Linked DNA regions of Homo sapiens: region 1 is reported to be linked to region 2. Evidence: microRNA targets listed by miRTarBase, many of them from high-throughput screens and not tested one by one. Region 2 holds a microRNA gene; the other region holds the end of a gene's coding sequence.

Region 1 (4,065 bases), not on the chromosome of region 2:
ATGGTGAAACCCCATCTCTACTAAAAATACAAATATTAGCCAGGTGTGGTGGCAGGTACCTGTAATCCCAGCTACTTGGGAGGCTGAGGCAGGAGAATTGCTTGAACCCAGGAGGCAGAGGTTGCAGTGAGCCAAGATTGCACCATTGCACTCTAGCCTGGGCGATAGAGCGAGACTCTGTCTTCCAAAAAAAAAAAAAAAAGGGAATTAGGTCACATCTCCTCATCATCCCCTCCTTCCTGGGGATGGCATCCCAGTTACAGTTTTTCCTTCCTAGCTAGGGGCAGTGAGATTTGTTGTCTGGTCTACACAATAGCGAACACAAACATTCTCATCTCCTGCAGCATGGCATACAGACTTTACAGAATGTCCTGTGTTTTTGTGGCTGACAATCAAAGTGGTACATGTCCCTCCCATTCCGCACACACCTCTGCTCTTTACCCTGATTAAATTTTCTTCATCGAATTTCTTGGATGTTGACATATTTATTGTCCGTCTCTCCCTGCTTGAGTCAGAGAGTTTTGCCTGCTGGGTACACGGCAGGTGCTCAGTAAATATAGCAGAATGGCGCGTTCCCTGCCTCCCATGACACTTCACCACAGCTGACTTTTTCACATGGCTCAGGGCCAAGGTCATTGCCCAACACCCTTCTCCCTCCAGACTGTGGGCTCTGCAGGGTCTCCCTCTGTGGTGTCTACATAGGCTCCCCAGGCTGGGCACAGAGGAGGTGCTACTAGATGTTGATGTACTTTCTCCACAGGCACAGCCACTTCCTGCCTCCTGAGGACTCCTCTGACGGCAGGAAAACTGGACATGAATGACTGCCCCCACGCCCCTCCCCTGCAGAGTGGCCAGATGGAGTCCTGAGCCCTGGACATGGGCCCGGCTTTCCTGGATATCAGGACTTCCAATAAATAAAGACTCTGTATACTGGGCTTTGATTCCTGCCATCCGTACCTGAGAGGGTCCTAGGAGAGCTGGCTGGGCAGAGTCATCTGTTCCCCAGCTTCACCGGGTGTGCCAAGGAAGTGCCTGGGAAGAACAGGACTCTGCAGCTGTGCCCCAGGGTTGAGACTACCCTGCCTCCCTTGTGAACTCTGCCACACAGCCATTTCCTGACTTCTGCTGCATGTGCCTGGGGTAAAGACCCTCAATCCCTTCCACTCTAGCATTCCCCAAATTGTTATTTTTTTTTAATATATATATTTTTTATTTTATTTTTATTTTTATTTTTTTTTGAGACAGAGTCTCGCTGTCGCCCAGGTTGGAGTGCAGTGGCACGATCTCGGCTCACTGTAGGCTCCGCCCCCCGGGGTTCGTGCCATTCTCCTGCCTCAGCCTCCCTAGTAGCTGGGACTACAGGCGCCCGCCACCTCGCCTGGCTAATTTTTTTTTTTTTTTTTTTTAGTAGAGACAGGGTTTCACCGTGTTAGCCAGGATGGTCTCGATCTCCTGACCTCGTGATCTGCCCACCTCGGCCTCCCAAATTGCTGGGATTACAGGCGTGAGCCACCACGCGCAGCCTATATATATATTTTAAAGACAACGTCTTGCTCTGTTGCCCAGGCTGGAGTACAGTGGTGCGATAATAGCTTACTGCAGCCTCGAACTCCTGGGCTCCAGTGATCCTCTGCCTCAGCCTCCACAGTAGCTAGCACTACCGTAAGCACTTGACACAGTGCCTGGCTGCATTCTCCAAATCTGTTTTCAGTTTTCTGGAGGCTTGGGGGGTGATAAATAATATGCGTCTTTCCCTGCTGAATTCAGAATCAACTGGGCAACAGAGGCATTAGGCAATGGAGATGAAAATACTGGCTTTATTATTGAAAACAACCACATGGAAGGATGTATGGCTTAGAAGGCCATGTACTGGATTTCTTTTCTTTCTTTCTTCTTTTTTTTTTTTTTTTTTCAAGACGGAGTTTCACTCTTGTTGCCCAGGCTGGAGTGCAATGGCGTGATCTCGGCTCACTGCAACCTCTGCCTCCTGAGTTCAAGCAATTCTCCTGCCTCAGCCTCCTGAGTAGCTGGGATTACAGATATCCGCCACCATGCCTGGCTAATTTTTGTATTTCTAGTAGAGATGGGGTTTCACCATGTTGGTCAGGCTGGTCTCAAACTCCTGACCTCAGGTGATCTGCCCGCCTCAGCCTCCCGAAGTGCTGGGATTACAGGCACCGGCCGCCATGCCCGGCTAATTTTTGTATTTCTAGTAGAGACGGGGTTTCACCATGTTGGTCAGGCTGGTCTGTAACTCCTGACCTCAGGTGATCTGCCCACCTCAGCCTCCCAAAGTGCTGGGATTATAGGTGTGAGCCACCGCTTCTGGTCTATGCACTGGATTTCTGTTCTTAGTTTCCAGTTTTCCAGAAGCCAACTCAGAATTTGAGTGCAGATGGTAATTTGAATTTGATTCCAGAAACACTGATAGAGGAATGGAGAAGGGAGACAATAGAGAGGAAGGCAGCCAATAAAAGGTGCATTATCAAGCGAGTTACCACTCTGGGCAACTGGGACTCAGTCCCACTGGGGACCTGTGGGGGACTTTATAGAACATAACCCAGTTACCCTATCAAGGAGCAAGGGAATTGTGTTATCTACCAACTTCCCATCTGTCATTAAGGGGTATTTTCATGGGCATTGACTGGTACTTCTGGCCTGCCCTTTATAGGCCAAGTTCACTTCTGCCATCAGAAGAGGGCCGTAAGCAGAGTATAATGGGATCAAGTGAGCAGCCTTAAACCTGCGGAAGAGATGCTGAGTGGATCTGGGCAGGTACCAACAGTGGCTGCTGTGGCTTCTTCATGCTTCTCAGGAATACAGGCTCCTGCTGTTTGATACAGGCTCCCCAGTAGGGACTGGTCCTAAAGAATAGAAAGCAGACAGGCGTGTATGCAATAGAGGAGGAGACCCCAGAGTGCTGAGCTGAGCATGCCCATGGCCTGCACCCACATTCACCATTCAGACGAGGCCCTCCTCCCTGGAGGTGATCCCAAACCTCTGGAAATTGGAGTAACTGGCCATTTGATACCCAAGGATTATGCTCGGCTTGGAAGAATGAGCCTGGCCTATGGGAGTCTCTCCTAGGGATTAATCTCCAAGACAAAGGAAGTTGTTCATTGGTTTAGGAGCCGGGTAGAAATCCTGTAAGTTCAGGGTTGCAAGATTTTATACCATTTGTCTGAGCTAGGAGGAAACCCAGGTAGTGGAGAGAGAATTGTGATCAGTTCCTGTAACCTGCCACAATCCCTGGTGGACTGAAGAAAGGGTGGCGAATGCAGGAATAAAAGACAAGAGACAAAAGAGTATATTTGGAAGAAGGGGTCAGGGGGCACCTTGCCTCTAGTGGACAAGGGCCCTGAGCTTTACACAGCTTTCTGTATTTATTAGGCAAAAGAGATAGCGAGAAGGCAGGTAGAAGAAGAGGTCAGCTTGTCCAGAGTAGGCTTGCAAGACTGCATTCCCTAGATGTCGCAGTAGATAACCTCAAGGAGCTCGGCGCCAGGAAGCGACTGCCCTCATCAAACCTTCTGGGGCAGGCACAGAAGTGAGTTTGTCCACATTCTGTATTAATGGTAAACAGTTTGCTGTTTGATCATATAGCCCCAGTGGAATGCTGAGTTGGTCACATCCCACAGGCCTTTGGCTCCCTGCAAGTTCCTGTCCCTGAAAGGGTCTGGATCCTGGTGGCTTTTTGTTTCCATCTCTAGTTTCCATGGGCTGTGGTGGATGTTTTCAGCCCACTCCACTTGCTTGAGTAAGCTTGAGTGGGGTTCTATGCCATGCAACTAAAAGAAGTGTGATTAAAACAGACAAAATGGAGATCCAGACTACACTTTAGAACATCTCTATGTGTCCTGTCTTACAATAGGCTAGACTAGCTTCTTTATATGATGGTCTCAGGGGTCCAAGAGAGTGAAAATGGAAACTTCAGACATCACTTTTACCACATTCTATTGGTCAAAGCAGTCATGAGCCCAGCTGAGATTAAAGAGATGGGGAGACTTTACTTCTTGATAGCATTTGGCTGCAAAAAAATTGTGCCTATATTTAAATTACTGCAAC
Region 2 (4,065 bases):
TAAAATTCAACACTAGTTACATTTGGAAACCTGACTTGCTAATCTGCTGACCTTGGAAAATGTGTCTTTGTTGAATACAGAGCAGTAGTACCTGGGCTGGCCCTGTGTGACTTAGAGCGGACAGTATGGGAGGTGGAGAACTGGGTGCATGGGAGCCATTAGATCAAGAATTGGAAATTCCTCACAAATAAAAGGTTTCTGGGGTAGGAGCAGGGGGCAGTGTTGATGGTGACTCTGCTTGGATTATCTTCTAGGGATGGAGGATTGCCAGCTCCATTGAATGGAAGGACTGGTGATGCGCAGCCACTCTTGCATGTGCCCGGGCAAAAGACAGTGTGTTGGTGGCAAATGCCTAATGTGTCTATGGCTGACCATGGGCCATCTCTGCCATTCAAGACATCAGCTCCTGGCAGAGTTGTATTGGTTTGATAGAGCTTTAGTCTTCGGAGTCGCACAGACCTGAGTTCAAATCCTTCTCTGCCATTTACTGTAATAATTGTGTTCCTTAGGCTGATCCTTTAGCTCTCAGATCCTCTTTTTCCTTTTCTCTAAAATGATGTGGTTGATATCTGCTTTTGAGGTTGTGAGGATTTAAAATAACAGGTAAATAGGTGCCACACAGTACCAGATACTTAGTTGGGTGAGTAGCCTGGTGATCTGTGGCTGTTAGCTCTTTGAAGGCCAGTATCCCTAGGAGATAGCAGCAACGTCAGCACTGCTCTGATTCCCTGACCAACCCCCAACCCCACCTTTGCCCTCAGAAATACCCTGGACCCTTGTTTCCTTCCTCAAGTTCAGACCCCAGAAATGTTGGGCAAGAAGGAGCCTCCAGGCCAGGCTTTATTGTGCCAGATGTTATATCTGAGTAAGCAGGATTGTTACACAGCAGAGATACAGGAGCAGAGCAGGTAGCTCAGGCAGCTGCTGATGAACAAAAGGCTTCTTCTCTCTGTTCCCAATAAATTGGTCCTTGGGGATCCTAGCTTTGAAATTCTAATTGACACAGGAAGGAAAAGATTCATTAGGCTCTGGACTCGTTAAAATGCTCTGCTGCTCACCTACGATTTATTCTTGGCACTTCATCAAGAGGAATTAAGTAAACCAATGGGCTGGGAGGCTCCTGACAGCAGAGTCGTGTGTCTCTCGTGCTCCTGGGGGGATGAGAGTGTTGGGTCTCCTATGCTATGGAGCATATAGCTGGCTTTGGAATCTCCTCATCCCTAGGACTTCACATGAGTCTAAGTCTCATATGCTTTTAACAATGGAGGGACCTTCTGAGATCATACTGTGTAACTCATTTATAGATGGTCCAAAGAAGAACTGGGACTTGCTCAAGATCACGAAACGCATTAGTAGTGGAGTTAGAATTAGAATCAGTCAGGCTGCATGACTTCCAGGTCAAGAATATTTTCTCTGCGGCCGGGCGTGGTGGCTCACGCCTGTAATCCCAGCACTTTGGGAGGCTGAGGCAGGTGGATCACGAGGTCAGGAGATCAAGACCATCCTGGCTAACACGGTGAAACTCCATCTCCACTAAAAATACAAAAAATTAGCCGGGCGTGGTGGCGGGCGCCTGTAGTCCCAGCTACTCGGGAAGCTGAGGCAGGAGAATGGCGTGAACCCTGGAGGCAGAGCTTGCAGTGAGCCGAGATCGCACCACTGCACTCTAGCCTGGGAGACAGCGAGACTCCGTCTCAAAAAAAAAAAAAAAAAATTTTCTCTGCATCACCTTTGGATTTCTACACCCAGTGTTTCATTCATTCAGCCTTCAACAGATACTTTTAACACATTCTGTGTGCCAGGACTCTGTGATAAACAAAACAGCCATGGAGGAAAGTAAATACCTGACCCAGTATTAGGAGAGATTAGAAAGGCCTCCAAGTCTGAGAGATGGATAGGAATTAGCTCAGCAAGGAGAGATGAGGAAGGTTATGGCTGAGGAACTGGCATCTATGAAAGCCAGATTCAGCTTTCCCTTCAGAGCCTGGCTTTGGCATCTATGAAAGCCAGGCTCTGAAGGGAAAGTTGAATCTTGCTAGAGTGGAGAATTGAGGAAGAGATGAGATGTTAAGGCAAGCCGAGTCTATGAGGTTTGGGCCACTGTATGGTTGTAAAGAACCCTGGATCTGGGATTAGGAGTCCTGAGTTCTAGATATGTTTCTGCTACCAATATGTTAGTCATCATTCTAGTAACACTTCACATCTTTTAGGTGTGCCATGATGGGCACTGGGGTACAAAAATGTGTAAGATGTATGTAGTCCCCTCCCTCAGAGATCTGTCAGTTTAATGAGGCAAGCAGGCTAATTAAGAACCCCTGTAGTAAAGGAACAGTTACCTCTGCTGTAAGAAGTCAGAATTGAGCTGTGTGTTACTTTAAGCACTTTCTCTGGGCTTTGATGATCTCACCTGTCAAATGGTAAATAACCACTGTCCTATGTAGCTGGTAAACTGATGAGAAGACAGACAACTTTGTAATGATTGGCGTTTGTTTGGCATTTTGTGGATTTCAAAACACTTTTGACATCATTAATTCATTGAACCTTAACTGCAATCTTATGACTTAGGAAATTTCCCCACAATGTACAGATGAGGAAACTGAGAGAGGTTGAGGCTTGTTCATAGTTTCACAGCTTTTGATTAACAAAAGTTAGGATTATAAATCCAAATCCCGTGCTCTTATTTTGAAAAGTATAAAGATGGCAACCTTTCTTTCTATCCCCTACTTAGTGGCAAATTATCCCCTTCCCCTTTTCACAGTCACCAGAAATGCAGAGAATGTCTGCTGTGTTTGAAAAGCAGATCTAAGCTGACTGGGGAGAAAGAAAGGAGCTTATTTCAGGTCTTCTTCAGGCTGGACTCTAAACTTTTAAGATCATGTGCGCCCGTGCTCCCATCAGCTCCTGCTGTTCCATCTCATGCCATTTACAGAGTGCCATTTACTGAGCCACTACTTCATTGGCTACTCATAGCAACTTGTGGGGTAGACAAAGTGCACTTTACAGATGGGCAAACTGAGGTCCAGAGTCCCTGAATTGTACATGTCAGAACCAGGATTGAATCTAGAAGTCTTGGGCTCCTGACACCAAACAGGTGCTCTTAACTTGCAGAATGTAGGTTCCTTTGATTCAGTTCGGTTCAAACAATTCTTGAATATAACCCATGTGCCAGAGACTTTGCTATGCAAGAGAGCCTCTAGTTAGGCTCAAACCGTCTTGGTCTAGTGCCTTACTTAAGAACAGGGACTTGTATTATTTACTTCTCTGTCCCCAGGCAGGACCTTGATCCAAAAATGCTTTGCTGTTGTTTTTGGCCTTAATCTGCCAGAAACTAGAGGGAGCAGATGGCCACAGCAATGTGGGTTATGAGGATGTGATATCAGGCAGGGTTGAAGGATGAATTGAGAGCCCTGCACCCAACTACTTCTGTGTCTGTGCCTAGGCCCTTGTCAGGGTAGTCTCTATCTGAGAGTGTAGCTGGTCAGCCTGGTCCCATTTCTCATTTCCAGTCACCTCCCCCTCTTGCCATCCCATATAATGGGGTTAGTCTCCTGGACAGATCTCATACAGAGGCTGCTGGGATCTGCTGTCCAAATGACCCTTTGGACCTATTTCCCAGCCATGTTCCAAGATGATGGTGAGGAGTCTAGCCCCACAGCCAGTATGCTATCTCTATTCAGATAACTCCCAGCTCACAGGCCTCCCACCAGGCTCTCACCCACTCTGATGTTTTCACTCCTGACTCCTAAGAAGCAGATTGGCAATTTAGTGTGAGTCTGTCAGACAGCCTAGAGAGTAATCAATACTGAGAGAAATGGACATATTTCCTGTTTATTCAAAATCCTGATGAAAATTTTAAGGAGCACTATTTGGGAAGGGATGACTGGGAACCTTGCAAGAACAAACAGCTTAAAATTCATGAACAGAAATAGCAACGTTTATTCATGATGTTTCAAATGCCCCTAATATTCACATCTTTATATATTACAGACCCCTTTCATACGTGTTACTGCTTTTGAACCTTAGAGCAACTCTGTGAGGGAAGCAGTGTAAGGATTACTATTCCCA

Evidence for each region. Region 2 holds the annotated microRNA hsa-miR-4755-5p (UUUCCCUUCAGAGCCUGGCUUU, at 1,971-1,992, shown strand). A microRNA usually pairs through its seed, bases 2 to 8, with sites in the 3' UTR of a target mRNA and lowers its output. Matches are read on the target gene's strand: a 7mer-m8 pairs with bases 2 to 8, a 7mer-A1 pairs with bases 2 to 7 and ends in A, and an 8mer does both.
Region 1: miRTarBase lists CHCHD5 as a target of hsa-miR-4755-5p. The part of its 3' UTR that is shown has no 7-base or 8-base seed match.

What each region holds. Positions count from the first base shown.
Region 1 is chr2:112,588,106-112,592,170 of GRCh38, forward strand. It overlaps CHCHD5 (coiled-coil-helix-coiled-coil-helix domain containing 5), which reads left to right. Exons shown (of 4, transcript NM_032309.4): 4 at 761-935. The coding sequence ends at 784. Among named protein-coding and RNA genes, the nearest start is that of CHCHD5, 5.5 kb to the left of the region's middle.
Region 2 is chr20:34,047,158-34,051,222 of GRCh38, forward strand. It overlaps MIR4755 (microRNA 4755), which reads left to right and starts at 1,962; the gene lies at 1,962-2,033. The region is part of intron 2 of RALY (RALY heterogeneous nuclear ribonucleoprotein); the gene reads left to right.